4 separate regions of the Homo sapiens genome follow, and all the other regions are reported to be linked to region 3. Evidence: microRNA targets listed by miRTarBase, many of them from high-throughput screens and not tested one by one. Region 3 holds a microRNA gene; each other region holds the end of a gene's coding sequence.
Evidence for each region. Region 3 holds the annotated microRNA hsa-miR-342-3p (UCUCACACAGAAAUCGCACCCGU, at 3,745-3,767, opposite strand). A microRNA usually pairs through its seed, bases 2 to 8, with sites in the 3' UTR of a target mRNA and lowers its output. Matches are read on the target gene's strand: a 7mer-m8 pairs with bases 2 to 8, a 7mer-A1 pairs with bases 2 to 7 and ends in A, and an 8mer does both.

Region 1: the mRNA of CHD9 is a reported target of hsa-miR-342-3p. The part of its 3' UTR that is shown has no 7-base or 8-base seed match.
Region 2: miRTarBase lists PVRIG as a target of hsa-miR-342-3p. Seed matches in the 3' UTR shown: 7mer-m8 at 1,558-1,564 and 7mer-m8 at 1,566-1,572.
Region 4: miRTarBase lists PWP2 as a target of hsa-miR-342-3p. The part of its 3' UTR that is shown has no 7-base or 8-base seed match.

The regions. Positions count from the first base shown.
Region 1 is chr16:53,323,573-53,331,299 of GRCh38, forward strand. CHD9 (chromodomain helicase DNA binding protein 9) reads left to right here. Exons shown (of 39, transcript NM_001308319.2): 39 at 448-3,925. The coding sequence ends at 1,323. Among named protein-coding and RNA genes, the nearest start is that of RBL2, 110 kb to the right of the region's middle.
Region 2 is chr7:100,219,850-100,227,576 of GRCh38, forward strand. It overlaps PVRIG (PVR related immunoglobulin domain containing), which reads left to right and starts at 100. Exons shown (of 5, transcript NM_001397246.1): 1 at 100-179; 2 at 265-615; 3 at 698-824; 4 at 911-971; 5 at 1,079-1,641. The coding sequence starts at 122. The coding sequence ends at 1,402. It also overlaps the pseudogene CASTOR3P. RefSeq lists enhancers at 1-119, 180-249, 1,640-1,739, 1,760-1,859 and a silencer at 1,170-1,219.
Region 3 is chr14:100,105,755-100,113,481 of GRCh38, reverse strand. It overlaps MIR342 (microRNA 342), which reads right to left and starts at 3,827; the gene lies at 3,729-3,827. The region is part of intron 3 of EVL (Enah/Vasp-like); the gene reads right to left. It overlaps MIR151B (microRNA 151b), which reads left to right and starts at 3,968; the gene lies at 3,968-4,063.
Region 4 is chr21:44,129,120-44,136,846 of GRCh38, forward strand. It overlaps PWP2 (PWP2 small subunit processome component), which reads left to right. Exons shown (of 21, transcript NM_005049.3): 21 at 1,478-2,062. The coding sequence ends at 1,652. It overlaps GATD3 (glutamine amidotransferase class 1 domain containing 3), which reads left to right and starts at 4,564. Exons shown (of 7, transcript NM_004649.8): 1 at 4,564-4,719; 2 at 4,983-5,035; 3 at 6,941-7,054. The coding sequence starts at 4,579. RefSeq lists enhancers at 4,064-4,591, 4,592-5,119, 5,120-5,647.

The sequences.
Region 1 (7,727 bases), not on the chromosome of region 3:
AATAATTCATATGAAGCATCTTACTATAACCTTAACCTTTAATATTCCTTCTTTATTGTTCTTCCCAATTAGAAGGGAGCCACTTCTTTGGTCTTCTAGGACAAGTGATGGTGTGAAACATGTAAGGGTTATGGAAGTACCCATGAAAAAATTTTTTTGGACCTTATATTTTCTAGAATTATACTACAATCTTATGTTTTACAGTATGGAGGAAGGCTAAAGACCTCTTTACTCACTTATTCTGTGATAAAATGAAAAGTGGAAGAGCTGTTTGAAGCTACCACTTATATAAAATTAGGTTATTGCTATTATAATTGATTATTTAATATCAGTACAGAATAAATTTACAAATAATTACCTATTTTTCATGGTTATTTGTATGATAAGCTAATAACTCTTTATTTTATTTTCATGTAGGGATTATTAATGAATATATATTTCTTCCAGGGATTTCTTCCAGAAAGCATGTATGAACGTATTCTCACTGGTCCCGTTGTGAGAGAGGAAGTAAGCAGGCGGGGGAGACGGCCTAAAAGTGGAATTGCAAAGGCCACAGCAGCAGCAGCTGCTGCATCTGCCACCAGTGTTTCAGGCAATCCTTTGTTAGCCAATGGACTACTTCCAGGTGTGGATCTCACAACTCTTCAGGCCTTACAACAAAACCTACAAAACTTGCAGTCACTGCAAGTAACTGCTGGGTTGATGGGAATGCCTACCGGCCTTCCTTCTGGAGGAGAAGCTAAAAACATGGCTGCTATGTTCCCCATGCTGCTGTCAGGAATGGCTGGATTACCAAATCTGTTGGGCATGGGAGGACTCCTGACAAAGCCTACGGAATCTGGGACAGAAGACAAAAAGGGAAGTGACTCTAAGGAGTCAGAAGGAAAAACAGAAAGGACAGAGAGCCAAAGTTCAGAGAATGGTGGAGAAAACTCTGTGTCAAGTTCTCCTTCCACATCCTCTACTGCTGCATTAAATACAGCTGCAGCTGCCAACCCATTAGCTCTTAACCCACTATTACTATCTAATATACTTTATCCAGGGATGCTTCTCACTCCAGGCCTTAATCTTCATATTCCAACTTTGTCCCAGTCCAATACTTTTGATGTACAAAACAAAAACAGTGACTTAGGCTCGTCTAAGTCTGTAGAAGTAAAAGAAGAAGATTCCAGAATTAAAGATCAGGAAGACAAAGGAGGAACTGAACCAAGTCCTCTCAATGAAAACAGCACAGATGAGGGTTCAGAGAAAGCTGATGCTTCATCTGGATCTGATAGTACATCGTCGTCATCTGAGGATTCAGATTCTAGTAATGAAGACTGATTCCCAGACTCTGCACTTAAAATATGAACTGATTTTGGATTTTTTCTTTAATAATTAATTGTAAATACCCCAGTGTTGAGTGCATCAATAACTTACTGACCGAACATTTCAGTTATTTGTTTAGAAGTGCAAACTGCTTTCAGAGACTTTTTGCATGTAATATTTCTTAAGATTCATAAGTTTCTGAACTCGTATGTACTATCAAATACATAAAGGTGTAAAATTACAACAAAAGGCATTATAATTTTGTTGGGGGTTAATTTTATGAAAATTATGCTCAATAAGAGTTGTATATTTAATATATTTGCAGTGAACACAGAATACTTTATGCATATTACTGATTTAATTTGAATATAGTTTTACAGCCTCCTTGACACCTATAATTTACAGATCAAAACTCAGCAATAATTTGGGCAGCTAATGAATGTCATGAAAGCTGTAGAATCTACATCACCATCCATTGCTTTAATTACATGAAAATGCTCTAGTGTTGTGATGCACTGCTGATGTTTCCAATTCAGGTACAAGTATGTTTTAAAGAAGAAATAAGTTTCCCAATCAGCCAATTTAACTGGCTACCTGTTACCTCAGCTGAGTTAGTTTAGGAAGTTTACATTCGTTTCTAATTCTATACTTGTTTTCAGGGGTTTTTTAAACACATCCTATATATCATGTCAATCTGGCAAGAAATATGACTTGCTTTTTGCTGAGCTTAATTCAGATATCAGTAAAATTAAGTCATAAAATAATCATGTGTCATGTGACTTTGGCACCCTATAGACATACTTAGTTTTAACTTTTCAAAGTTTGGCCTCCTATTAGAAATAATCATGTCTCAGATGAGTAATGTCTGTTTCCAGGGTTCAGAAAAGGCAAACTCATGAAATGCCACTGAAAAGAACTTTCAACACAGCATACTTCATGTAAAAGAAATTGTTTGTTTGCTTTCTTTGTGTAGATTTCTATTTGTGTTTTATGTCATGGAAATATTCCAGAATTAACAGATAATAGTGGTAAAGTAATATGCAGATAGTCTAAATTCATTTTGAGTTTCTAGGTGTAAGCAGACTAAATGTTGCCCAGAATCAGTGTTGGGTTATCAGTTTATATTAAATATACTGAGTTGCCCGTTTTGAAAATGCACTTTGAATAATCTCAAAAAGATGTACAAGTTATACCTGTAAACCACAAAAGTGAAGCCTGAGGCTTCTGTTCAATTTCATAGACTCCTTTACCATGTAAAATTTGTCTGATATTTGATTTGTGATACAATTTCTCCTGCTAAAGCTGCTATTATTCTGACAAGGTAGAGGTCCAGGTTCACCTTTATATATATTTAAAACAATTAGTACTGAATTGGACATAAAAATATTGACATTCTAAGGAGAGATATATGTTAGCATTTTTCTGGTACTCAAATAAGTTAGTAGTAAAGTCTGCAAGGGCATAAATTTAGGGGGAAAAAGTGTCCCAGTTCTCTCCTACAGAAAAAATACTTTCAGTATGTTTTGATAAAACTGTTGCTTTGTCATGAGTTAGTCAATTGTATCAGGTTTTCCAAGACCTTTACCAGTAAATTATGTTTCTGTATGTAAAATAACCCCTTATTAGAGAGACAGTGTTATATGTATTTACAAAATTATATAAGTTCCATTGGGATTGTATTGATTTTGTATTTTCCCAAAATAGTACTTTGAATTGATAGTCCTTTATGCAATGTCTTAGCAATAGTCTCTATAATGCCCATCCAGGAGAAGTGGGTAGTAATTCTTCATCATGAAAATGATATATTACATATTTAGTATCTTCCCTTTGCAGTATTGCACTTTTGTTTAACTAGAATACACCTATGAGATAGCCAAAGTTTCAAACACAGTTATCTTAGTTTACCGGTGGAGTATTTCAACACCAACCACATTTCCCTTCCTCCCTCTAATTCTACCCACATGATCTTTATTCCTTCCTTTCGCCAATTAAAAAAAAAAAAAAGGAAAAAAAATCTGTAGATCTTGTCACTAAAATCTAATTTATATCAAATTTATGAGAGAAAGTATTTTCCTAATTATGGTCAAATAAATTTGGTTAACATCCTAGTGATTCTCTTTCTATATAATAAGGCAATTACAGTTTTCAAAGCATTAAGTCTAACATAACTTTAAACATTCTCTTAGGTTTCAAGACACTTCTATTTAATATTCATTGGGGAAAAGTTGTCCAGCTATCAGCTAAGAAAACACATGCAAATATGGTTGTGTAAAGTTAAGGGTTATAAGGAAAAAAAAATCAGTAGAATTACATAATACTAAAGTTGCAGTTGAAAGAATATCCAAGTATGTGTTGGTAGTTACTAAAAGAATTATAGCTGTTATTGCCTTGTATTTATAGCCCTTGTTTCAGGTTTTATGATTCAAGTCTTAGTCCAATCTTTCTTTTGGACATTTGCAATATTTACCAGTTGTGTTTTGTGTAGTCTGAATTTGCTTTCTGTAGTTGAGCAAACGTCTTAAAAAGTCATTTGTAATTTATTAAATTACTTTCTATGATGTTCTATAGAGCAAATGGAAGTTTAATTATTTTTTATTAAACATATTCTTTGACTACCCATGATGTCAGCCTCTGTACATGAGAATACTTTTTAAAATTGAATTTTATATAGAATTTATCTTATTCCAGTTATGAGAGACACCATAGTTGTAAATCTTTAAAAGGAAAATATACCGTGGAAGAATTTTTAAAACAAAAATTGGCTATAATTTTATCCACAGTATCTTAAATGCTGTCAATTTTTCATTTTGATTTAATTTTATTAATATTGTTCATTGTGGATATTGGTGACTGCAAAAAAAGCAAAAGCTGCTTCTTGGGCATTCAAATTGTTAAACCCCAATTTTGCAGCCCAATCTCAACTTCATGCTGAACATTAAGTATTATTTTCTTAAGTTTTTGGACTTTTAAAAAACTCAGAAATACTCAGAGATATTCCTCACCTCTTTAAGAAGTCCATTTTGGAAATCAATAATTATTTTTTTCCCTTAGTCTTAAGAGTGTTTCCTAACTCATTGCCATGGGTAGTGTTCTTCGTAAACATTGAAGAAAATAGTTTTTCCTCTAATTACACAACTAAAACAGTGGAGTCTCATACTCATTTAACTTGAACACATTCAACTACACTTTCATGTTTAGAAAACCTTTTTTTCATTTTTGTACAACATAACATATAAACACAAACCAACTGCTTCATCTAGTACTCACCCAGAGGAACAGTAGTCTGTTCCAGTGTTGGAGGAAGAATTGCCTATGTTGGACATTTTTGAGAAGAGATATGAGGTATAAAATGATGTATTCTGTAATTTGTGAGCTCTGTGAGAGAAAAGAGTGATTTTTTTTTTTTTTATAAAGACAAGGTCTTGCTCTGCCTCCCCTAGGGTGGAGTGCAGTGGTGCGATCACAGCCCACTGCATCCTTGACCTGTTGGGCTCAAGCAATCCTCCCTCCTCAGCCTCCTGAGTAGCTGAGACTACAGCATGCATCACCACAACGAGCTAATTTTTGTATTTTTTGTAGAGATGGGGTTTTGCCGTGTTGCCCAGGCTGATCTCAAACTCCTGGGCTCAAGCAGTCTACCCATCTCGGCCTCCCAAAGTGCTGGGATTACAGGTGTGAGCCACCACACCCAGCCAGAAATGATTTTTGACTACACCTAATATTCACTTTATACAATAAACTTAGAACTTAATCTCTATATAAGCTATTTATTTTAAAATTCAGAAAAGCAAAAAAATATTTAAATCATTCATAAACTAAAACTACCCAGAGATAAACACTGTCAGTAATATATTCAATCTTTTGTATATCTATGTTATTTACATGTAGTGGGTTGAGTAGTGTCATTCAGAAACTGATGTCAACCTAAAACCTCAGAATGTGGCCTTATTTTGGAAATCGGGTCTTGGCAAATGTAATTAGTTGTAGTCATGCCGGATTAGGGTGGGCCCTAAATCCAATGACTAGTGTCCTTAGAAGAAGAGCAGAAGATACTCAGAAACACTGGGAAGGCTGTTTTGTGATAAAGGAGACCGGAGGGATGTTCCTACAACTAGGGAACACCAAGGATTGCCAGCAACCACCAGAAGCTAGGAGAGAAGTAACAAGCATTCTCCTTCATAGCTTCCGGAAAGAACCAACCTTGCCAACACCTTGATTTGGGGTTTCTAACCTGAACTGTAAGAGAATAAATTTCCATTGTTTTAAGTCACCTAGTTTGTGGTAATTTGTCATGGCAGCCCTAGGAAACTGATAGCTTTTCATATTAACTCAGTGTTTTATGGTACATAATTTCTACCTGCTGTAGGCTTTGAAAAAGAAGAAAAAAAACTTGGTGCACTGCCCTTAATATACTGACCTATGTCAAATAAGAATCCTGCAATGTAATTTTTAATACATAGTATTGATTCATACAGATGTAATTTATTTAATCATTAATTTAAAATGGATATTTGGGTTTATGTAGACATTTTTGCATCCATCCCTAAATAATTTGCTTAATTCCTAGAACTGAAAATACTTCCTCTGTTTTTAAGGACTTCAGTTTATGTTTCCACGTTTATAACGAAGCTCCTAGTAGCTATTTATACTAACATTAGCAGCATACGTTTTGCGCATGCCCATTTATTCCCAAATCTTTGCCAATGCTGTGTATTGTCTTTTTAAATAATCTTTGCCAAATTAATAGGCATAAATTATATTTTGATCTTTAAAATTAACTTATTGTTCTTTTTTCCTAGTTAAAAAAAAAAAGACATCCATATTATAGAAAATCCAAAGGGACAGGGGAAGCACAAAGTAAAACCCCCATAATGCTGAATTCAGAGATAATCGTTAACCTTTGGGTAATTTTTCTTTGCATATACATAATATATATTTGAATAACAACGGAGTTATACTGTACATACCATTTGTAACCTACTTTTTTCATTGACTATATCATGACTATCTTTCCATGTCATTAAAGAATCTTCCACAACATTATTAAGGGCTTTCTGATATTCCAATATATAGATGTATTATAATTTAATACCCAATTATTGAACATTTAGATATATAATATTTCAGTTTGGGGCTACTAAACAATAAGGTGTTTCTAGTTAAATATTTGCATACATTTATGATTCTTTCATTAAATATTTAGGCATGAAATAGTTGTGTTTGAGTCTTGGAACCAGTAAGATTGTTCTATTTTATACCTCAACAGCAAAGCGAACAGGATATGCAGGATGCCTGCATTTATAATTAAATAATCTAAATATACATTACGAAGTATTCAGCTCATGTGTATCATATATATGCATTATATATCACAGGCGTTTTTTTCCTGTTTTGCATATTATGCAAACAGTAGACAAGAAAACTGGAGTGACTTTACTAATACCAGATAAATAGACTTTAAAACAAAAGAAAATTGCTAGAAATAAACATTTTATAATGATAAAAAAGGCCAATCTACTGGGAAAAATCACAATTATAAACATATATGCACTTAACAACAAAGCTGCACAATTCATGAAGCAAAAACTAACACAGTTGAAAGAAGAAGTATACAATAAAACAAGAATAGTTGGAGACTTCAATATATCCTTTATATAATGGATAATATAACTTTTTTATTTTATTATTATACTTTAAGTTTTAGGGTACGTGTGCACAATGTGCAGGTTTGTTACATATGTATACATGTGCCGTGTTGGTGTGCTGCACCCATTAACTTGTCATTTAGCATTAGGTATATCTTCTAATGCTATCCCTCCCCCCCTCCCCTGGTGTCCATGTGTTCTCATTGTTCAATTCCCACCTATGAGTGAGAACATGTGGTGTTTGGTTTTTTGTCCTTGCGATAGTTTGCTGAGAATGATGGTTTCCAGCTTCATCCATGTCCCTACAAAGGACATGAACTCCTCATTTTTTATGGCTGCATAGTATTCCATGGTGTATATGTGCCACATTTTCTTAATCCAGTCTATCATTGTTGGACGTTTGGGTTGGTTCCAAGTCTTTGCTGTTGTGAATAGTGCCGCAATAAACATTCATGTGCATGTGTCTTTATAGCAGCATGATTTATAATCCTTTGGGTATATACCCAGTAATGGGATGGCTGGGTCAAATGGTATTTCTAGTTCTAGATCCCTGAGGAATCGCCACACTGACTTCCACAATGGTTGTACTAGTTTACAGTCCCACCAACAGTGTAAAAGTGTTCCTATTTCCCCACATCCTCTCCAGCACCTGTTGTTTCTTGACTTTTTAGTGATCGCCATTCTAACTGGTGTGAGATAGTATCTCACTGTAGTTTTGATTTGCATTTCTCTGATGGCCAGGATGATGAGCATTTTTCATGTCTTTTAGCTGCA
Region 2 (7,727 bases), not on the chromosome of region 3:
AGGTGTGAGAGGAGAGAAGGAAGTGGCTGTTTGGCTGCTGACAACATGAAGACTTCCTGCGATGAGAACAGAGGCACAGGTGCCGGCCCTGCAGCCCCCAGAACCTGGACTGGAGGGGGCCATGGGGCACCGGACCCTGGTCCTGCCCTGGGTGCTGCTGACCTTGTGTGTCACTGCGGGTGAGTGCCGGCACCAGAGAGGGGCAGGGGCTGCAGGGAGGGTGATGTAGGACAACAGCCCACCGACCTTGCTGCTGTTCCACAGGGACCCCGGAGGTGTGGGTTCAAGTTCGGATGGAGGCCACCGAGCTCTCGTCCTTCACCATCCGTTGTGGGTTCCTGGGGTCTGGCTCCATCTCCCTGGTGACTGTGAGCTGGGGGGGCCCCAACGGTGCTGGGGGGACCACGCTGGCTGTGTTGCACCCAGAACGTGGCATCCGGCAATGGGCCCCTGCTCGCCAGGCCCGCTGGGAAACCCAGAGCAGCATCTCTCTCATCCTGGAAGGCTCTGGGGCCAGCAGCCCCTGCGCCAACACCACCTTCTGCTGCAAGTTTGCGTCCTTCCCTGAGGGCTCCTGGGAGGCCTGTGGGAGCCTCCCGCCCAGCTCAGACCCAGGTGGGGCCGGGGCGAGGGGTCCAGGAGGGCAGGGAGGGGCTCGGGAACTGGCCACCCATCTGATTCTTGTCTCCGTGCCCAGGGCTCTCTGCCCCGCCGACTCCTGCCCCCATTCTGCGGGCAGACCTGGCCGGGATCTTGGGGGTCTCAGGAGTCCTCCTCTTTGGCTGTGTCTACCTCCTTCATCTGCTGCGCCGACATAAGCACCGGTGAGACCTGGTCCCTGTCCACGTCCCCCTGACACTGGGATGGCCACATGCCCTGCAGAGCTCTGACCATCCTTGCTCTCTCCCAGCCCTGCCCCTAGGCTCCAGCCGTCCCGCACCAGCCCCCAGGCACCGAGAGCACGAGCATGGGTGAGGAGGGGACCTGCTTTGGGGATGAGGTGACAGGGGCAGGGGCAGGGGGGCCAGGGCTGGGCCCAAGCTGTGCAGACTCACTTGACCCTCCTTCCCCCGCGCAGGCACCAAGCCAGGCCTCCCAGGCTGCTCTTCACGTCCCTTATGCCACTATCAACACCAGCTGCCGCCCAGCTACTTTGGACACAGCTCACCCCCATGGGGGGCCGTCCTGGTGGGCGTCACTCCCCACCCACGCTGCACACCGGCCCCAGGGCCCTGCCGCCTGGGCCTCCACACCCATCCCTGCACGTGGCAGCTTTGTCTCTGTTGAGAATGGACTCTACGCTCAGGCAGGGGAGAGGCCTCCTCACACTGGTCCCGGCCTCACTCTTTTCCCTGACCCTCGGGGGCCCAGGGCCATGGAAGGACCCTTAGGAGTTCGATGAGAGAGACCATGAGGCCACTGGGCTTTCCCCCTCCCAGGCCTCCTGGGTGTCACCCCCTTACTTTAATTCTTGGGCCTCCAATAAGTGTCCCATAGGTGTCTGGCCAGGCCCACCTGCTGCGGATGTGGTCTCTGTGTGTGCGTGTGTGGGCACAGGTGTGAGTGTGTGAGTGACAGTTACCCCATTTCAGTCATTTCCTGCTGCAACTAAGTCAGCAACACAGTTTCTCTGATGTCGGCCTCGGCTGTGCTTCTTCTTTGGGGGTGAAGAGAGTGGGGAGGCAGTCTCCACCCCTGGGAGGCAGAAGCCAGGTGAGAACCAGAGTGGGTTGGGGCCTCATTGCAGGGCTGGGGTTGGCCCAGGGAGAGGGCAGTGTCCCAATCTTAGAGATCTGTCCTGGCTTCTCAGAGTGGCAGGGGTGTTGGGGGAGCTTCCTGAGGGACACCTGTGGCTGCCTAGATAGGGCTGGGGGATCCCAGTGGGATGGTCTCTGCTCCAATCCCACCATGTTCTAGGACAACAGCAAGGGTTCCTGGGGCTTTGGCCTGAGAGAAGTCCCTGTGGTTTGACCTGGCTTCCCTCTGCTGGGCTCCCTGCTGTGGCCTGGGCTGGGGTCCTGATGCCCTCCTTCCACAGCTGGCGTTAGGCAGGGTGTGGAGAGTAGGGGGACTCACCTGAAATCTTCCCTCAATCACTTCCCCCGCCTCCTCTCGGGGAAGGCAGAGGCCTTCACAGACATGGGGGACTCCCCACAAAATGTTCCATCCAGAGCCAACCTTTCTGCTTGGTAGAGCTGTGTCTCCCCCTCAGCCTAGTTCCAGGGCGGGTCCGTGTCTCCCACCCCAAACTAGTTCCAGGGTGGGTCCCTGTCTCCCACCTCAGACCAGCTTTGGGGCTGGTCCGTGTCTCCCCCTTCAGACTATCTCTGGGGCAGGTCCATGTCTCCCACCTCAGACTAGCTCCAGGGCAGGTCTGTGTCTCCCCATTTAAACTAGCTCTGGGGCGGGTCCGTGTCTCCCCCATCAGACTAGCTCCGGGGCGGGTCTGTGTCTCCCACCTCAGACTAGCTCCAGGGCAGGTCCATGTCTCCCACCTCAGACTAGTTCTGGGGCGGGTCTTTGTCTCCCCGCTCAGACTAGCTCTGGAACGGGTCCTTGCCTTCCCACTCAGATTAGTTCCGGGGTGGGTCCATGTCTCCCCGCTCAGACTAGCTCCAGGGAAGGTCTGTGTCTCTTCCCTCAGATGAGCTCCTGGCAAAGCCTCCCCCGTCAGACTAAGACTCCTAGGCAGAGCCGTGCCTCCCCCTGGTCCAGCCGGCGACCCCTCATGCCCAAGGCAGCCCTACCCATTGAAGTAGGACATGACATCCATGAGGAGTGTGGCAACAGCAGGCAGCGTGTCGGGGTCCAGGCTGGTGACACAGAACCTGTTGCTCGGGCTGGACAGTGGGTGGATGACCGGCATCTGGACTGTAAGAGCACAAAGATGTCAGGCACTGAGGCTGGGACTGAAAGCAGCAGCTCTGGTGAGTGCAGGGCCTGGGAAGAGGGCTGGGGAGGGCTCAGCCGCAGGCCCTGAGAGACTCATTCACTGCTGCTTCTCCAGCCTCTACCACCAATTACCACCGTCCTGATTCTCCATCTCACTCTCAGGCCCCTGGGCCTTTGCACATGCTGTGCTGGCTGCCTGGGATGCCCTTCCCAACTGGCACCACCTGGCCCCGTTCCTACCTGTGTTCCAGGCTTCAGCACCACAGTCCCTGCCCAGGGAAACCCACCCTGACACCTGGGATTGCAGCAGGAGTGGCCTCTGGCCATTGCTGTATGCATGCACGTCCACCACCCTTGCTAGACATGGCAGCAGGGCCTGCCCAGGACCTTTCCATCACATTTTTTTTTTTTTGAGATGGAGTTTTGTTCTTGTTGCCCAGACTGGAGTGCAATGGCACAATCTCGGCTCACCGCAACCTCCGCCTCCTGGGTTCAAGTGATTCTCCTGCCTCAGCCTCCTCAGTAGCTGGAATTACAAATATGCACCACCACACCCAGCTAATTTTGTATTTTTAGTAGAGACCAGGTTTCTCCATGTTGGTCAGGCTTGTCTCAAACTCCTGACCTCAGGTGAATTGCCTGCCTCGGCCTCCCAAAGTGCTGGGTTTACAAGCATGAGCCACCACACCTTGCCCTTTGCATCCCGTTCTGCCTGGCACTCCATTCATGCTCAGTGGGCAGAAGCCCGTGCTGAGAGCAAGGCTGGTCTACGGCTTGGCCTGGTAACTTCGTGAGGTTTCCCCGCACAAACCCCCGCCCCCAGCTCACCCAGCTTGGGCTTCACGAAGCCACTGGTGATGCCGAGGTTCTCGGCTGCTACAGTCTAGCCACTGACCACAGGATGGTGAACTCTGATGACAACGTGTGGGTGACAAAGGGCAGGTCCCGCTTGAGCACCTAGGGGCAAGAAGTTGAGGCTGTGTGTGCCTGGTGGCCCTGGGGCACCAACCTCTCACCCTGAGACTCTGCCCCCACCCTGGAATAGCGTGGAAGGGCAAGGCTGCAAGGGGTGGGAGATGGGAGTGAGTGTGTCAGAGGCGGGCCCAAGTGTGCAAGGCGTGTCTGTGATGGTCAGCTCACCAGGATGAAGTCTGTCTGATACGTGGACAGCATGAACACGGATATGTTCTGGTCAGCCAGTGGGGCGATGACTGACTTGGCGATCTTGGTCATGCCAATAGGCTGGGAGCTGGAGAAGCTGCCACCGCCGGACACCACGTTCAGGGCCAGCCAGGTGGCATCCGCCACACTCAGGTGCTCCGAGGAGGGCAGCTCTGGAGGGAGACACAGAAGGCAGCCCTGTGACTGCTGAGGTTCCAGCTGTCCCAAGGGCAGGGCAAGGTAGGCCAGAGAGGTGGAGAGTGAGGCTCTGGGGCCAGCTCTACCCTGTGCCTTGCCTCACTTTCCAACAGGATTTTTTTTTTTTTTTTTTTTTTGAGACAGTCTTGCTCTGTCACCAGGCTGGAGTGCCTGGAGTGGTGCGATCTCGGCTCACTGCAACCTCTGACTTCCTGGTTCAAGTGATTCTCCTGCCTCGGCCTCCCAAGTAGCTGGGATTACAGGCACGTGCCACCATGCCTGGCTAATTTTTGTATTTTTAATAGAGACGGGGTTTCACCATGTTGGCCAGGATGGTCTCAATCTCTTGACCTCGTGATCCGCCTGCGTCAGCCTCCCAAAGTGCTGGGATTAGAGGCGTGAGCCACCGCACCTGGCTGGATGGGATTGTTTTTTGAGAGAGTCTTGCTCTGTCGCCCAGGCTGGAGTGCAGTGGTGCAATCTCGGCTCATTGCAACCTCCACCTCCTGGGTTCAAGTGATTCTTGAGTAGTGGAGATTACAGGTATGCACCATCACACCCAGCTAATTTTTGTATTTTTAGTAGAGATGGCATTTTCCCATGTTGGTCTGGCTGGTCTCGAACTCCTGATCTCAAGGGGTCCTCCTGCCTTGGCCTCCCAAAGCGCTAGGATTACAGGCGTGAGCCACTGCGCTCGGCCTTCAACAGAATGGGATTTGAATCAAAGGCTGCTTCCTGGGAGGACTGGGCAGGGAAGGCCCTCAGATGACACAGGACATCCCCAGCAGCTTAGCAGAGTAGGAGCCATGTGGGCAAGTGGTTGATCTGCGCCAAGCCTCAGTTTCCTCAGCCGTAAAACGATGGCATCAGTAGTGGGTAATGCCCTTATCTTTAGTTCTTACAACCCTTTTGTGGGTCTGATGCTGTCATCACGCCCATTGTCTCGCGTGCAACTGGCTTTCAAACTGGGTTCCTGGAGACCTCCCAGGAAGGCTCTGGGTGGAGGGGAGGCCAGGAAAAGGCTGGGTGGGGCTTTGGGGTTTCTCTTCCCCCTTCAGCCAGCCCTGCACATTGGGCTTCTCTGGAAGAACAGGCAACTCCAGGAGGGCCCCTGAAGAGGCTGCATCATGGGGGGCAGTGACTGTCACCCATGTCCCTCCTGAGAGCCTGGAAGTCCCAGGGGCTGGCAATGGCTTTGGCAGGCGGGGGAGTCCACAGCAGCAGCAACTGCTAAGCCTCCTTACCTAGCTCATGAAAACCCAGAATCCAAACGCTGGAGCCATCCCTTCCACCCTGTCCTACAGACAGAGTCCCTGAGTAGCCCTGAACGTGGGACACAGGCACACACTATGTGTGACCACACCCAGCCGCAGACTCGAGCCCAGGCTGCATTTGGGGCTCTTCATACATCACCAGGCACCTGCATAAACCCACCTAGTGCCAGGCCCTGAGTGGGGAGGGGGCACGGCACAGGGAGGTGAACTCTGACACTGCATCCCACAAGGAGGCAGGATTTTTTTTTTTTTGAGATGGAGCCTCACTCTGTCACCCAGGCTGGAGTGCATTGGCATGATCTTGGCTCACTGCAACCTCTGCCTCCTGGTTCAAGCAATTATCCTGCCTCGGCCTCTCGAGTAGCTGGGATTAGAGGCACCCACCACCATGCCTGGCTAATTTTTGTATTTTTGGTAAAGATGGGGTTTCACCACGTTGGCCTGGCTGGTCTCAAACTCCTGGCCTCAAGTGATCCACCCACCTTGGTCTCCCAAAGGGCTGGGATTACAAGCGTGAGCCACCGCGCCTGGCCAAGGCAGGGTTATTTTGCTCACTGTACACTCAACGGTCCAGAAACTCTGGACCTGGAAGGCTCAGTGATTTGCCGAAGATCACTTAGGAAATAACAGAGCCAGGATTCCAGTGTGGGTCTGGCTCAAGAACCCAGGCTCTATTTTGGGCACCAAATGAAAACCACCAAGTCCCTAAGAAAATAGGGGGCTAAAAAGAGAGGTGCTGAGGCTGGAGGCAGTGGCTCACGCCTGTACTCTCATTGCTTTGGGAGGCCAAGGTGGGAGGATCGCTTGAGACCAGGAATTGGAGACCAGCCTGGAGAACGTACTGAGACCCCATCTCTAAAAAAATTAAAAATAAATGAGCCAGGCGTGGTGGCACATGCCTGTGGTCCCAGACGCTTGGGAGGCTGAGGTGGGAGGATCGCTTGAGTCTGGGATTTCAAGGCTGCAGTGAGCTATGACTGCACCACTGCACTCCAGCCTAGGTGACACAGCCAGACCCTATCTCAAAAAATAAATCGATAAAAAGGGAGACAGGGGCTCAGAGATGGGTGAGCTAAGGCAGCTGTGATGATGAAGATTCCTGGGGAAAGACGAGCTGGGCTCTGCTGGCAGGCAAGATGGCCTGAGAGGAGGGAAATTGAGTGAGGCCCATGCCTGTTCCTACCTGCCCAGCTCTGGTCACCATGGTGACCACAGCCCAGGGAGCCCATTGGTCCCGCTGGCTGAGAAGGACCAGTGGTCAGCCAGTGGGTGGCTAGAGAGGCAGGCAGCTGCACAGAAATGGGAAAAGGCGGCCCCAGTCTTGAGCAGTGGGAGGCCTGTCTCTTATCAAAGCCGCAGGCTTCGGACTCCGAGGGGCCAATCCTGGCTCTGTCCTCCCCAGCGGAAGCGGCTGCTGATATAGCCTCCGAGGTGGTGAAGTGCTGGGGTGCATATATGCACCTTGAGGGGGTGCTGACATAACCAAGACTCTGCCACTAGGAGTCTCTTGGCAGGTTTGGACGAGACCCAGAGTGGTCTTGGGGAGAAGCCCAGGCCTGAGACCAGCTGGAAACATGGCTGTGGGGGAAGAGGCGGCTGCTGCTGGCTGGAGGATTTCAGGTCAATCAGCAGCTGGCCAGGAGCAGGCAGCCTGTCTGATGGATTGGTCTACCCGCCCTGCTCACAGCCTCCACCCTGGGAAGAACCCAGAGCTGCTGCTGCTTTTTTTTTGAGGGAGAGTGTCTTACTCTGTTGCCCAGGCTGGAGTGCAGTGGCGCGATCTCGGCTCACTGCAACCTCTGCCTCCCGGGTTCAAGCGATTCTCATGTCTCAGCCTCCTGAGTAGCTGGGACTACAGGTGCATACCACCATGCCTGGCTCTTTTTTTTTTGTATTTTTAGTAGAGAAGGGGTTTCACCATGTTGGGCAGGCTGGTCTTGAACTCCTGACCTCAAGTGATCTGCCTGCCTCGGCCTCCCAAAGTGCTGGGATTACAGGTGTCAGCCACCTTGCCTGGCCACCTCTCCACCTTTTGATCAGTCACTGCCTGCTGACCATGCCTTGCCACGCGTGGCATGGACCACAATGATGTACTGCTGTTCCCAGTTCACAGACAAGGGGACTGTGATGGGTGAGGGCTGGTGATGTGGAGCCTAGATAAGCACTGGGCCCCTCTAACTCCAAGTCTAAGCTTCTACCCAT
Region 3 (7,727 bases):
CCGCACCTGAGGGGCTAGAGAGGAAGCATGAGGAAGATGATGAGAGCAACACCCACCGCTGAGTGCTCACTACCTGCCGGGCACCGTTCTGAGCATATAGACTTGAAGCCACTTAAGAGTTAAATCTGAGTCCTGGCTCTCACTTGCTCTTTGACCTTCCTCGCAGCTCCAGGCATGAGGCTAAGCCTGGGATGTTACGCTCAAAGCCTGCCCTTCTAGGCCTGGTTCTGCTTGTTCCTCAGCCTCCCCTTTCTCTTCTCCCGCATGCATCCAAGATGGCAGCACTAGGTTCACATGCCTCTGTGCCGTTGCCTATTTTGCTTCTTTTTGGGCTACTCTTCTAACTGGTGAACGTCTGTCCATCCCCTTTAAGACTCAGATCAGGCATGCCCGCCCCCAGGGCTCTCCCAGTAGCTCTCCCCTTCACCACAGCCTCCCCTGCAAGAAGCCCTGTGTTCTCTGCATCATAGCATAACATACACTGTATTGACAAGGCTCTCTCTCCACCTGGCTGTGAGCTCTGTGAACACAGGGACCAAGTCTTATTCATCTTTGTGTTCTGGTGCATGGCCCAGAATAGGTGCTCAGTAATTCACAGATGGGGTCATAGCTGTGGATACAAACTGCTCCCCTGGAACTTACAATCTAGAGAGGAGAGACAGGCAACAAATAAAGACACAACATGTAGGAAGAAAAACACAGCAGAGAATGAGAATTAAAGGAATGTGTGTGGGTCGTTCTTAAGACAAACTCTGCGATTACGTGGTATAAGCAGACACCCGGAAGAAGTGAGGGAAGGAGCCCTGAGGTTTTGGGGAGAAAACATTCTGGGCACAAGGGGCCTTGGGTGTAGAGGCCCTGACTTTAGGAGCATGCTTGGCACATCTGGGGCATGGCGTAACTGGGATGAAGGAGGAGAGGTAGAGAGTAGGGAGGAAGTGAGTTCAGAAAGACAGCCAGGGCCACAGCATGCCGGGCTAAGCAGGCCTTGGTAAGGATGTGGACTATATTCTGAGTTAAGCCTAAAATCCTAGAGAGTTCTGGGCAAGGACTGAGACCTGACTGAGAGGTGAAATGCAGTCTGCTTGCTTTGCGGGGAATGGATCAGAGTGGGCTAAATGCAGGAGCAAGCCAGTCAGACAGTGGCTGCTGTGAAACCCCCTGCTGCATGGACACCTGGATGAGAGAGGGCAGGCAGCAGATAGGCAGGGGGCAGGGCCTCAAACACTCGCAGCCTGTCCACTCTCAAACTGGAAACTGTATCTCAAGTTCAGCAGTTGGCTTTCTGAGTCTCCGGAGTTATCTACCAAAATATTTGAGCTGGCTTTTATCCTATATGAGCTGAAGCTGGCAGGAGGCTACTTGTAAAACTCCTTCCTTAGGAAAGAAATGATACACGCTACGCGAGGAAAAAAGAAAACAGCTGTGAATGAATTCTTCCCTCACTTTCGAAGATGTGGGTATGTGGCTAGAAAGATGGGGCAGGTTAAGTGTTTATAATAATCAACCTCTGACCAAGCCGGGTTATAGTTTAGAAAGCTGGGGGGCTGCCAGCTGAGCAGGGTCTTTTGAGAGGCAGTCTGGTCCACTGGGCAGAGACCTGGACTGGAAATCAGAACATCTGGGCTCTGGGCCTTAAGCTCTGCATTCACCAGAGTGGCCTGGGGCAAGTTTCTTAGCACTGTGAGCCTTTGTTTCTTCCTTCTTAAAATGGAGAAAGTAATTCCTGCTATCTCCCTGCAATCTCAGGGAGCCAAGATCCAGGCACAAGAGCATCCAGGAAGGGGTTTGTTCCTTTCTGTAAGGAGTATACGGCTTAGCTCTGGGTGGTGGCACACCAGAATGAAATGACTCTGGCTACGACTGAGGGGTGAGATCCCAGTATCTAGGGATTGGGCACTCCAGGAACAACTTGCATTCACTGTGCCATATGCTTACAAATCACAGTCCCATCTATTTTATCATTTGAGCCTCATGACAACTCTGTGAGGTGGTTGTCACACCCATTTTAAAGACAAGGAAACTGGCCGGGCACGGTGGCTCACACCTGTAATCCCAGCACTTTGGGAGGCCGAGGTGGGTGGATCACCAGAGGTCAGGAGTTCAAGACCAGCCTGGCCAACATGGTGAAACCCTGTCTCTACTAAAAATACAAAAATTAGCCGGGCGTGGTGGCGCATGCCTGTAGTCCCAGCTACTTGGGAGGCTGAGGCAGGAGAATCGCTTGAACCTGGGAGGCAGAGGTTGCAGTGAGCTGAGTTTGCACCACTGCACTCCGGCCTGGGCAACAAGAGCTAGACTCTATCACAAAAAAAAAAAAAAAAAAAAAAAAATGAGGACACTAAGGCTTAGAATGGTGAAATGGCTTGCTCAAGGTTTCACAGCTGCTCCATGTGACAGGGTGGAGCGGGTGCCTGGAGCTAGGGCATGGTACCCTGTCACCTGCCCCCACAATCTGTGCCACTTCTGTCAACCACTGTGCTGACCATGGCAGGCACACCTCAGCTGGCTGCTTCCTGAGCCCTACCAGGAGGCGTCAGGAAGGTGCTGGTGAGGCAAGGCTGGGGAATGAACCACCACCTATCTCAAACCCTGACTGGGCACATGGCGCCTGGGCTGTATCTACAGAAGACTAAAACTCCAAAGGAATCTCGCCATTAGCGTTAGGGAGATAATCCTGGGACTGGTGGAAGGAGGAGACCTCTCTTCTCTAGGATGTAAACTGCAATAAGCCAGCAGCTCTTTTGAGGAGGACAATGGCAGCAGCAGGATGCAGGTGGGATGCTCTGAAATTAGGGGCACCCGTGAGGCATGCACAGTACTACCAATGTGCCGAGGGAGACCCCCAGGGTCAGACAGAGCCTCTTCTCAGATCTTGATTTGAACTTCCAAACCACCAAGATCTGCTGGTGCCGCCGTCCTCCTCCTCATCAGATCCCCCCATTCACCCCCAGCCCTGCAGGGCCCAGGTTCAAGCCCCGCTTCCCTCAGAAAGTGTTCTCTGACCATCAGGATCCAAGAAGCCTGGCTTCCCTCTGTGTCCCAACGTGATGGCTGCTGGCACCACACAGGAGTTGATATTGTTAGTTACCTTTTTTTTTTTTTCCTGAGACAGCGTCTTGCTCTGTTGCCCAGGCTGAAGTGCAGTGGTGTAACCATGGCTCACTGCAGCCTCAGACTCCAGGGCTCAAGCAATTCTGCTACCCCAGCCTCCTGAGTAGCTGGGACCACAGGCACACGCCATCACACTTAGCTAATTTTTAATGCTTTTGTAGAGACAAGGGTCTTGCTATGTTGACCAGGCAGGTCTCGAACTCTCACACTGAAGTGATCCCCTGACCTCCTAAAGTGCTGGGATTACAGGCATGAGCCACTGTGCACGGCTGATATTGTTAGTTACCTTTGCAAATAATTTTTTTAAAAAGAGTAACTTCAAACTGTTATAGTAATTTAGAGGTGACAAAGAATGTTTACAAACATCATCTCATGGTACCCTCACAACAACCCTGTGAGGTGAGTCTGATTCAGCCATTTCACAGATGGCGAAACTGAGTCTTAGGTCAGTGACATGCCCAAGGGCACACTCCTGGCACAGCTGGTACTGGAACCAGATCCGAGTTCACGTCCGAAGTTCCTTCCACAGTATGCACACCTCGGGGCCACAGCAGCTGAAGGCCCTTCCATAGGCTGTGGCTGGAGAAGGCGTGTTCCTCTGTTTGGGGTGGTGATAAGTAGGCCAAGGTGACGGGTGCGATTTCTGTGTGAGACAATTCCATTAACCATGTCCCTCAATCACAGATAGCACCCCTCACCTTGAGCCCAGTTTCACAGGTTGGCCAGCAAGCGGTCTTGGTTCAGGAACTCCATCTTAGTCTGCAGAGAAGGATGCAATGGCAGGAAGTGCCAGGCTATGAGAGGCACACAATATGACATGGGCGCAAGCTGGGAGCTTGTTCAGTCACCAGACACCTCTGATGTGTCAGTCTCTCTTCAGGGCTCCCGAGACACAGAAACAGACACCTGCCCTCGAGGAGCTCACAGTCTAGACAAACAAACCCAGGGTCCAAACAAATGGGACACCAACAGTGTGCGAGGACTGGGAAGGGGTGCCTGAGGTCTTCTGGGGCACTGGGAAGGCTTCACAACAGCAGGGCAAAGGATGAGCAGAAGGTGACCAGGAGTATGGAGAGAACATGCATGAGGGCAGGGGCGGGGCCCCTTTAGACGCAGCCCAGGGAGGACAGACTGAAGAAGGACAAGAGAAGGTGGATGGGTTACAACCCCATTACAACACTTCAGGGGAGAGAGTGTCAGGGGAGAGACGGTGAGAATATGCAGTGCAGGTGGTGAAAATGGGAGCCAGTGAGTCAGAGGGACCAGGGGCTCAGGCCAATGCACAGCCTTCACTGCTGGACATGGTCCCACAGGACCTCGATGCTGAGCTGGGGCCTGGGCTGAGTCAGGAGACAGGGCTCCAGGCACGGCAGCCTCTGGGTCCTGGTGTGTTCCTGCAGCCAGGGATGGATATACTGAGAGCTTATAAGGCAGACGATGTGTGGGTTTTTGGGGTCCAGAGACAAAGAGGCCACTTTCTGAATTTCCAACCTGACTAGATTCATGCAGTGGGAATAGCAGGACAGGCCAAGTGGCAGCTGACTGTTAGGACAGAGGCAAAAATAAAGCCCCGTGGGAGTGCAGGAGGGAGTGCAAAGTCACAGGGAGCGGGGCGGCTGGGAAAGGCTCCATCTGTGGAGCCACATTCTGACAGGACGAGTGAGATTTTAGAAGTGTGGGGAAAAGTGAGAGGGGAAGAAGGGCCAGGGGCACAGGAGAGCCTGAGTAAGAGTGTGACTGACGGTGCGACTTGGGTAGCTGTTGGCATGGAGGCGTACAAAGGCCCTGCCTGATACAACATCTGGAGCCCTGGGGTGAGAACAGGGGTGGGTCAGCAAAGAGACATATCCGGCTTTCAGAAAGTGGCCGCCAGAGGGCAGCTGGGAGCAGGCAGGAGGCCAGGGGCTTGCCGTCCTGTTCCCCTCAGGCAGGGCCATGCTGGGCCTGCTTTCTCTCAGGTGGCACAAGGTGTCAAATGGCCTCGGCAGCCAGGGAGATGAAGACAGTCCAGTACTTCCTTCTCTTTAGGGGAGAAAGAGGTAATTTCCAATGGAAAGAGGTTTACAAGAAGCAAAATTCAGCCCCACCTCCAAGAGCTATGAGGTTTAACAACCTTCCACTCCCCTCCAAAGAGCACATGGAGCTGGGCCTGACTCTTCCCGGGAAGGTCTGCCTGTAAGTCCCTTTCCGGGGCTCTTTCTCAACACTGTGCTGAAGGTGCAGCCCCTGGGCCACTGGGCATCAATGAAGGACATAAGAGGTTGAAAAACTGGGAAAACATTTATTATCCAGCACCAGGAGCTTCATATTTTGAAATATACCAATGATGTTATTACACGCAAACCAAGTAGGAAAAGGACATACATTATGCTCCAAGAGCCAAAGAGAACAAGCACTTCATCCTGTGTTTTAATTCGCCCGGATTCCCACTAAGCTATGGGGTTTTCCTTTTTCTTTTCTTCAGAGTCCCACTGTATAAAGTCGATGAAGAACTACTCTGGTTGCATCAGGGCGAGGACCCTGGTATACCTTGGTGGACCCCTGGAACTCCTCAAAATATCCAGTTTGAAATCCACTGCATTCAACCCCCAAACTGCAAATAAACTTGCCTTTGACCACACATGCTTCTGTCCCACCCCCACCCAATCCAGCAGCAGGGGCACGTCTGACAAGATTTCATTAGTGAGAACCAAATGCGAAGAAACAGTCAAAATCCAGTTACTCAACCCTCTCCTCACCAGCACTGCTTTCCATGCACCTCGGCCCTCTTCCTAAAGCCTGGTCCTTTTCTGGTCCTTGGCCTGGAAAAAGTGATCTTTCATGAGGGAATGCTAGTGGAGGAACGTTGGGCGTGGCCATGGTTCTGCTCAGACTTGTCCTGTGGCCTGCACACATCCTCCCCCTCACTGGGTCTTGGTTTTGTCATCTGTAAATGTAAACCCAGTCTCATGACACCCAAGCCTCCTTCCCTGGCTCCCACTCACTGGCCCTACCCCGGCCTAGACTATCTGCCTTCTACACCAGCAGAGGCTTTGAGGGGGATTTTCTTTAAAATTCACTCCCACTATGTGGTCGAGTGCCATCAGCTTGGGGTCTTGCCTCAAGTGCCACCAGGGCCCTGCTCTCCTGGAGTAATGGGAGACGATGACACGATGACTCTAGTAAGTTCTGAGAGGACCTACAGTGGTTTAATGGAAAACTGCTGGATGTGGGGACAAAAAGAGGAGCAGCATGGGGCACGGCCCTGAAGGCCACATACCAGGCACCGGGCATCTTCGTGTCATGTGAACTGCCACGGGCCTGTGGTGTCATTCCACCTGCTGATGGAGGAGGTGACTTGCTCAGGGTCACACAGACCCAACGTAGCCCGGCTCCAGGACATGCACTCTTCCTGCTAGACCAAGCTGCTCCCACCACACTTCCAGGCACTGGAGGAGAAGAGGAGCATGTTCTCATCCTGGCTTCTCTTCCTGACTGGGTCATATCAGGAAGTGGTTTGGGCCAAGTACAAACTTCCTCCCTCTGGGGCTCAGTTTTCCTGGCTGTGAAATGAGACAGACACTGTGCTATCTCCATGGCACTGTTAAGCGACAACCAGGCAAGACACAGATGCAATGCAGGAAGGAACCAGCCCGAGTTTCACAAAACTTCAACCCTCTCAGGCCCGATGGTCCTCTTTTTATTATAATGTTTTGTAATGATCCTTGCATTATCCTGAAGTGAAATTCATAGATTACATAACCTACCTACCTAAATTCGGATATAATGCCTTACATGTACTGCAAAGGAGAGAGAAAAGAGAAGCAGTCTATAATAAAATGTGCATTACAACACATAAAGGGCCAGACCCAGCTACACTAGGAGACGGAGGCGGTCCACGCTTGCACCTACCCACAGACCCACTGGGAGTGCTGCTGCTGCAAATGGGATGTGACGAAGGGGAGGTCTATGGATGACTGAAACGTCACAGTGACGATGCTGGAGATAGGACTTTACGAAACAGAAAACAACTCTTGGTAAAGTTACAAACAAAATTAAGTATGATTTTCTTTTGACGGATGCAGTAGTCAAATTCCTAGAAAATTCAGCACATACTAAACCTGGTTAAAAAAATAAGTGCTTTTTCTTAAAACAGAGCAAGCTCTGGCTTGAGTTTTTCAACTGCATGTTTTGGTGGGACACGCAAGACAAGACTTCACTGCGCAGGATGATCCTGCACATTGCAATGTGCACCTGTCCCCGCTGTCCCCTAAATCGCCAACAGCTCTCCGTTTCCACTTTGTCTCTGGTGAGAGCTTCTTGTCTGGTCTGACACTGCCATTTCAGAGTCTAGAACATCAACACCTACAAAGAAGACAAAACGTAACTAAAGCCACATGCGAGGCAAAGGCTGAGTGGGGGCAAGAGCCTCCTCCCGGCTTGCAGGGCAGGTTCTCCCCCGACTCAAGGAAGCTCATGGACAGTCAAACTTTCTGCAGAGTTTCAGACACTGTGGCAGGGGAGGCATGTTCCCTATTCAGTTGGGATGTGGCCAAGCGGCTGCTGCTGCTACAACCACTACTACTTACTGCTAGTCACCATCACAGCCCTTCCTGCTTGTGCTAGGCTGTCTG
Region 4 (7,727 bases), not on the chromosome of region 3:
GCTCACTCTGCAGGGGTGCCCGCCTCTTCTCCTGTCATTTCTTTGTGGTTTGTGCCTTTTTTGTCCCTACCAATTCACCTTCCCTAAAGGTCCTGCAGAGCCGGGACTAGGCAGGCCTCAGAGTAGCCATGTGAGGGATATCACCCTCTGTTGCCAATCAGTTGCCGGGTTTCCCAGCTGCGTTTCTGAACGGTCTGTTCTCTGTCCTGTTTGCGAGTTGCTCTGTCCAGGGTTCAGGGGCAGAGCCTGAGTTTGGGCCTTGTGGGTTCATGTGGTCCTCCTGTCTGTCCTTGAAGTGTCACTCAGTCTTTGGAAAGAGTCCTGGAGTCCAGGTCGAGCCTGTCCTCCCCTCGTGTTCTGGGTGCCCTACAGAAGGCTGGGATGTGCCCTGATCCACAGTTTTGGTGCCAGGCCTTCCCTCGGCTGAGATGTCCTGGACTTTTCACAGAGCTCTGTAGGGGAGGAGGGTTGTCTAGCTCCCTTATTTATGTATTTATTTATTTTTTAATTCATTATTATTATTATTATTATTTGAGATGAAGTCTCGCTCTGTTGCTTAGGCTGGAGTGCAGTGGCGTGATCTCGGCACATTGCAACCTCTGCCTCCCAGGTTCAAGCAATTCTCCTGCCTCAGCCTCCCAAGTAGCTGTGGTTACAGGCACACGCCACCACCCCCAGCTAATTTTTGTATTTTTAGTAGAGACAGGGTTTCACCTTGTTGGCCAGGCTGGTCTGAAACTCCTGACCTCAGGTGATCTGCCTGCCTCTGCCTCTCAAACAAAGTGCTGGGATTATAGGTATGAGCCACCATACCCGGCCCAGCTCCTTTAGATTTATTCCCTCTTATGGGATGTTTTTAGAGTTCACGTAAGTGCATTGTTCCTTGGACCTCCTGTCTAGGCGTTCACTGCCAATCTGTAGGGTTGCCATTGGCTGTCAGGAAGAGTCCTGCACAGAGGGTCCTGTGCCCTGCAGATGCGATGGGGCGCTTCCTTCCTTTCTCATCCATTTATCTTTCAGTTCTCCTTTCCTATGTAAAGTGATGGTGGCATCACTTTTCTCCTTTATTCCATTAACTCAGAAAATTAACTGATTCAGAGCGTGCCTTCCTCCCCTCTCGCTCCACAACACCACATAGCTCTGCAGCGGTCTCTTCCTAAGTGTTTGGTGGAACTTGCTGGTGAAGCCATCTAGATTGGGCCCAGCGGAAGGGCTGAGCTGCCAGGATGACCCCAAAGGGATGGGATGTTACAGTTGGGTCCTTGGGTCCTTGAAGGCCTTTGCTGCCCCAGGGCTGGATGGGGCAGAACCAGATTGTTGGGGCAGGGAAAAGAGGAAAAAAATGGCTGCTGGGGTGGAGGAACCGGCATGTCCAGCCCCTGCTGCTTTTCTCAGGGGTCACAGAGGAGGTGGTTGGGTGCAGGACAGGCCAGGGCCTGGGCGTTGCTGGCATTGACCATCCCTGTGTGATTGACAGCTGTAGCTGGAACCACTATAACATGCAGTACGCACTAGCAGTTTCCAAGCAGCGGGGCACAAAACGCTCCCTAGACCCGCTGGGAAGTGAGGAGGAGGCAGAAGCATCTGAAGATGACAGCCTGCATCTGCTTGGAGGAGGAGGCAGAGACTCAGAAGAAGAGATGCTGGCCTAGAGCCAGCCGGTTGCAGCGTTGGATTGTGCCGGCTAAGACCTGCCAGGGAGATGGGACCCTTGTGCCACCTGGGCCAGCAAAGAGGAGGGGTCCAGAGAACAGCTGAAATACTGTCACTAGTGGTAGTGACTTGCTTTTCCTGTGCACACATGTAGCCCATCAGGACAGCGAGCCGACGGGTCACGCCAGGGGCCGGCACGCACTGGCACCTGGCCCCAGGAGCGGGGCCGTGTGAACGGTGATGAATGTTGAAAATGCGTCTCAGAGAGGTATTCACATGAACTTTGTATGAGACTTATTTATATCTTTAACATAAAGGTTTGATAAAGAACTTAGGGATTAAAAAAAAGATGGAGTTTTCTAACGTGAGGATGAAGTCTACACTTCAGATTAAAAAGGGTTATGTTGTATCCTGCTGTCTTGTGGGGGCTCAAGACCTGCCTGCCTTACCACCAGGGCCTCCGTCCTGGGGAAGCAGGCTGACAGAGCAGGGTGCTCCTGCTGTCTAGCGGGGGCTCTGCCTTGTGACCTGTGCATATCCTTGGGGTCAGGGGCACAGAGCCTCTCCCTGACCTCTTGGGGATGCTTTGGAGTCTGGGGCTGGGATTGGCCTGTCTTGGTGAGCTCACTCAGACCTGCACCAGCTCTGCGTGGGCCACACGGAGGAGGAGACAGCTCCTCCCCTCTGCAGTGCCCTTGGGAATAGTCATCATGAGAGAGGCTTGGGTCTCCATCATGGTAGGGCATCCTGGTCCCCACAGCTCAGTAACAGCAGCCTCCAGGGTCAGGACCTGAGGCTGACACTGAGGTGGGCACTTCACCGACTGCCAGTGCTGTCTGCCAGGCCCAGCCTGTCCCTCGCCAGCGGTGTGGCCCCCAAGACCCTGGGTAGTACCTGGCTCCCTTGCTTATCTGGGAAGTGGAGCTGATATCTGCCTGCCGGCCTCCCGGGGGTGGCGTGAGGCCAGATGTGCTAGAGAGTGGAGATGAATACGACAGGCAGTGCCTTGTGGCCCACAGCACTGTACCTGCAGGCCTGCAGACCAGAGGTCTTTGTAGAAGGGAGGAGCTCAGGCCCTGATGACACCAGGTGTTCTGTGGCTGCACAATCTCCGTGACCCAGACGAGAGAGAATCCTTAGCTATCGCCTACCCAAAGCACAAGTTCCAGTGTTCCCCTCCCTTGCCTCGCCCTTTTCCGTGAAACAATTTCCAGCGTTCCCCCTCCTCGCCTCACCCTTTTCTGTGTCACATGTGCATGGCGATGGACACCTGAGTAGTCGCCCCTGGGACAACTGGAGCTGCGGCTCTGCAGTGGGGTCTGGGAGCTCCCGGCCAGGGGCAGCTCCCGCACACTTGGTAGAGACAGGGTCCTGGCCCCCACACCGACTGAGTGAGAGTCTGCATTCGGCATTTCCTTTCTGAGTGGCGCTTGGTGTTTTTTTGTGCCATCCCACAACCCCATCGCTCCCACCAGCTGATGCTCCCTGGCTGGCCGCTCCCCAGGAGCTGAGAAGCCTGAAGAGGGCCAGGCACGGAGGAGCAGGAACGAGGACAGTCAAATGTGCCAAGCTTGTCTTTGGTTGTAACTGGTAATGTCCCATGTCTGTTATTCTAGTTCCCCACTATCTTGCAAGGATTGGCAGTAAAGTCCTAGTGATGGACAACGCGGCAGTGGGGAAAGTGACAGCCGTGGCTAGATCATCAGATGTGTCTGTAGAATCCGGTGTGTCCCTGTGAACATCCGCCAGCAGTAACCATTCACATTATTTCAAAAACCTGCATTATTAGGTTGAAAATGGGTAAATCGGGGAAAAAGCCAGCACTTATCCAGCTATTCCTCTGTGAACTAACCCATGCATAACAAACAGATTTTTTTAATGGAAGAATTCCAGCTAGGACCCGAGCAGCTGGGATCTTCACACTGACCGTCCATGCTGTGAACGTAAAAAACAAAAACAAAAAAACAAACCCAAACAGCGCCCGGGAATGGTGGCTCACGCCTGTAATCCCAGCACTTTGGGAGTCCGAGGCGGGCAGATCACCTGAGCTCGGGAGTTCAAGACCAGCCAGACCAACATGGAGAAACCCCGTCTCTACTAAAAATACAAAATTAGCCTGGCGTGGTGGCGCATGCCTGTAGTCCCAGCTACTTGGGAGGCTGAGGCAGAAGAGTCGCTTGAACCTGGGAGGCGGAGGTTGCGTTGAGCCGACTTCGCGCCATTGCACTCCAGCCCGGGCAACAAGAGGGAAACTCCGTCTCAAAAAAAAAAAAAAAAAAACCCAAACAGAATCGGCGGCTCACTTGCCCCCAGACTAACCCAGATCAAGCCCCTGGGTGGAACTGCAGTTTCCAGGATACAACATCCCGGGGTCAGTAAAACCCGGAGGGGTCGCTCCGTGGGAGCCGGAGCCGCGAGGAGACAGTCATGGAAGCGGAGGGGTAGTCCTGACCCCGCGTGGGTCCTGACGCCGAGATTAAGACGAGTGGCCATTTAGGAGGATGTGGACCCTGGACGCTCGTGGTGAGTTAAGGATGAGACGGAGGTAAGGTAAGAAGCGCCGGACTGAGCCGCCCCGAGGCAGCCTTGCTCTGCGGATGGCGGAAAGGGTGCGCCGCCTGTGGAGGCGTCCGATGGGGGCGGGGCTGGGGACCCCGGGAGTCACCAGCATCCCTCAGCCTCGAGCACGAGCCCTCAGCCACCACCGGAAGGAAGACAGGGTTCCCGGAACTCTATTCGGAGGCTCTGCGCAGGCGCGGCCCCCGCCCACCGGCGAACTCACTGGATAGGGCTGAGACGGGGGCGGGTCTTGGCTCCGCCCAGAAGGCTGCGCAGGCGCAGTCCCGACGAGCAACGCGTTTGTAGAGGGGTGGGTGCGCACGCTCTGTCCCTGCGTGACCTTCCGACCCCGCTGTCCTCACCGCAATGGCGGCTGTGAGGGTCCTGGTGGCCTCGAGGCTCGCTGCGGCATCTGCATTCACGTCCCTGTCCCCCGGCGGTCGGACGCCTTCCCAGCGCGCAGCCCTTCACCTCTCCGTGCCGCGCCCCGCGGCCAGGGTCGCGCTGGTGAGTGGACGGAGGGGGTGAGGTCAGCTCCCGCCTCCAGAGATCAGCCTTCGCTGTTCTCTGCCCAAGGTCGGCCCCTCTTCCTAGGTCCGCTCCCGCCGCCCCACGTCGGCTCCTTCACCCCAAGTCAGCTCCTGCGGCCCAGGTCGGCCCCATTTTCCCGGGTCAGCGCCCGCGGCCCAGGTCGGCCCCTTTCCCCCCAGTCAACTCCCGCCGCCCAGGTCGGCCCCTTTCCCCCGGGTCAGCTCCCGCTCCTCTCGCAGGTGCTGTCTGGATGCGGAGTCTACGATGGGACCGAGATCCACGAGGCCTCGGCGTAAGTCCTCAGGGGCAGCTGGTCCTCCACCCCGGGGGCCTCGAGAAGGCCTCTCCACCAGTGAAGTTTACTCTTTTTTGAACAGCTTAGAGAAAGCATGTATTTTATTTTATTTTTACTTTTTGTCTTTTGAGACAGCGCCCAGTCTGGAGTGCAATGGCGCGATCTTGGCTCACTGCGGCCTCCGCCTCCTGGGTTCAAGCGATTCTCCTGCCTCAGCCTTCCGAGTAGCTGGGACTACAAGCATGCACCACCACACCCAACTAATTTGTGTATTTTTGGTAGATACGGAGTTTCACCATGTTGGCCAGGCTGGTCTCAAACTCCTGACCTCAAGTGATCCTCCCGCTTTGGCCTCCCAAAGTGCTGGGATTACAGGCATGAGCCACTGCACCCGGCCGAGAGAGCTTGTATTTTAAATACCCTATTCTTGGCTAAAAAAAAGCAAAAACGACTTGCAAAACCCAGGGAGACGCTAAGAAAGAACAGTTTTTAAGTGTCGCTTATGCTGTCACCTAGAGCCTAGAAATGACTTAGCATTTCACTTGAGTGTTTTTCAGGACACACACATTTTGAAAACACTGAGATCACACTCACCCGTGTTTTGCAAATGTTTCTGACGCATGGGAAGTAATTCCCATTCATTCAGTTCTCAACATCATTTTAACAGTTGCGTGGTATTTCTGGGTCCTAGACAGGTTACTGTTTACGTAACTGGTCAGCTGTTGCTGAGTGCTTGGTGGCCTGATTTCCTGTGCTACTGGAAATGACTGCAGGCCGAACCAGTAGGGCAGGAGGCCACCACGCGTGCCAGGTACCTGTAGTTCCCATGTGGTTCAGGGTGAACTGGAGAGGGGAGAGCTGGGTGGTGGCGAAAGGGGTGTCAGGCCATGGAGAGTGGCCTGAGGCTGGTGGCTTTGTGGGTGGCCCACCTTGGCTGGTTGGAGTTGGCACTAGGCAGAGTGAGCTGGGGGAAAGGGCCAGGATGTGTTTCATGATTTGGCCTTGGTGGGATAGAAAATAGCCCCAGAATAGCTTGAGCCCTCCCAGGCAGAACGGCAGGGTCTTGTGTCTGGGGTGTCTGGGTGGATTTCTTATGGGTAGCGGAACCCAAGTGCCAGGGCCAGGTGCTGACCTCTCCCTCTGGCAAGTCACTGCACTTCATGCCTCGGTTTCCTCCTCCACGTAAGGGGCAGTGAGGGCTTAGTGTGTGGGTGGGCTTAGCCACCTATCTCCTGTTGGCACTGGGAGTTGCGGATGCCAGCGTGAGCCCCCATAATGTCAGCTGTTGTCCCCAGGAGGAGCTTCTGTTGCCCTTGCCCTTGGGGAGATGGAGCTGCCTGGCCTGTGGTGTTGTCCTGGGGTCTCTTGTGTCTCTCCCACCATCTGTGATGGGAAAGTTGAGGGAGACTAGAAATTGAACTAAGTAGTGACCGAAAGCCCCGTCACACCGTCTGTGCACGTGGCACTCTGAGCACACTGCTGCTTCTCACTCTTGGTGCTTGCAGCAAGCAACTGGAGGAGGGCAGCCAGGCCCTGGGTGTAGGTAGAGCACTCAGCAGCCGGGGACCCGCACGCCTCCAGGCTGTGCCCTCAGTGGAGTCACCCGGCCCCCATACCCCAGTTTGCAAAGGGAGCTGTTGGGACCAGCTGATCTCCATAGCCCACTTCTGAGGGTTTGTCATAGTCGTAACCCACCAACCGACAGTGAATTGGAATGGGGGTGTGGGGGACGTTTGGCTTGGTATGGAACCAACTGTAACTTTTTGCAGAGCAAGTAAGATATTAATATACATTAGGAATTTGCTCCTGGTACTTAGCTAAAATCCTGTTTTTAAAAATGTGTTAACACAAATCTGAGTGGGGCACGTTTTGAAGAGTTGTCTCTGGTTTTCCCCCGTGCAGGATCCTGGTGCACCTGAGCCGTGGAGGGGCTGAAGTCCAGATCTTTGCTCCTGACGTCCCTCAGATGCACGTGATTGACCACACCAAGGGGCAGCCGTCCGAAGGCGAGAGCAGGTGTGGGGGTGGGATTGGAACTTGCTTCTTGTCTACCTCCCACGGTGCAGCCTTTTTTTGCTGGCTTAGCTTAAACCAAGTCTTGTGTGCAAATGAACGTCCTTCTGAGCAGCTGTGCTCGGGCTGTTCCAGAAGTAATGCTGCCAAGGCTCAGGAGTGCCTTCCTTCCAGTACTCACAGAAGGACTGAAAATGGCGACCGGATCGCTTCCCACTGAGTCAGGCTGCTCATACCTTGGTCTTAAGCAAAGGTGGTGGTTCTCAGCTTGGTCGCCCACCTTCTTCCCCTGTCTGGGCTCCAGATCTGTTTTGCTGGTTCCCAGCAGCATGTCTGTTACTGCGGTGTGTGTGGTTCTGGCCTGTGTGGCCTGAGATCCCCTTCCCTTGCCTGTCCTGCCTGACAGCCCTGTGCAGGCCATTCCAAGGTGCCTTCCAACTGGCCTCGGACCACGAGAGGTCGGAGCTGGAGATTCGAGGAAGAAGCCATAGCTGCCTCCTGGGGCTGTGCTTCTCACCAGTGGGGACCCCTGTGATTTCTTTTCCTGCCTGGGACCCTGGCTTCTGCACCTGGACTTGCACCTTCGGCCCCCACACCTGGGGGCTAGCAGCTTCCTGCGGTGGCTGGCCTTCGGGTTGCTTCACTGGTCCTGAGTCCTGGCTTCTTACCTTCCCCT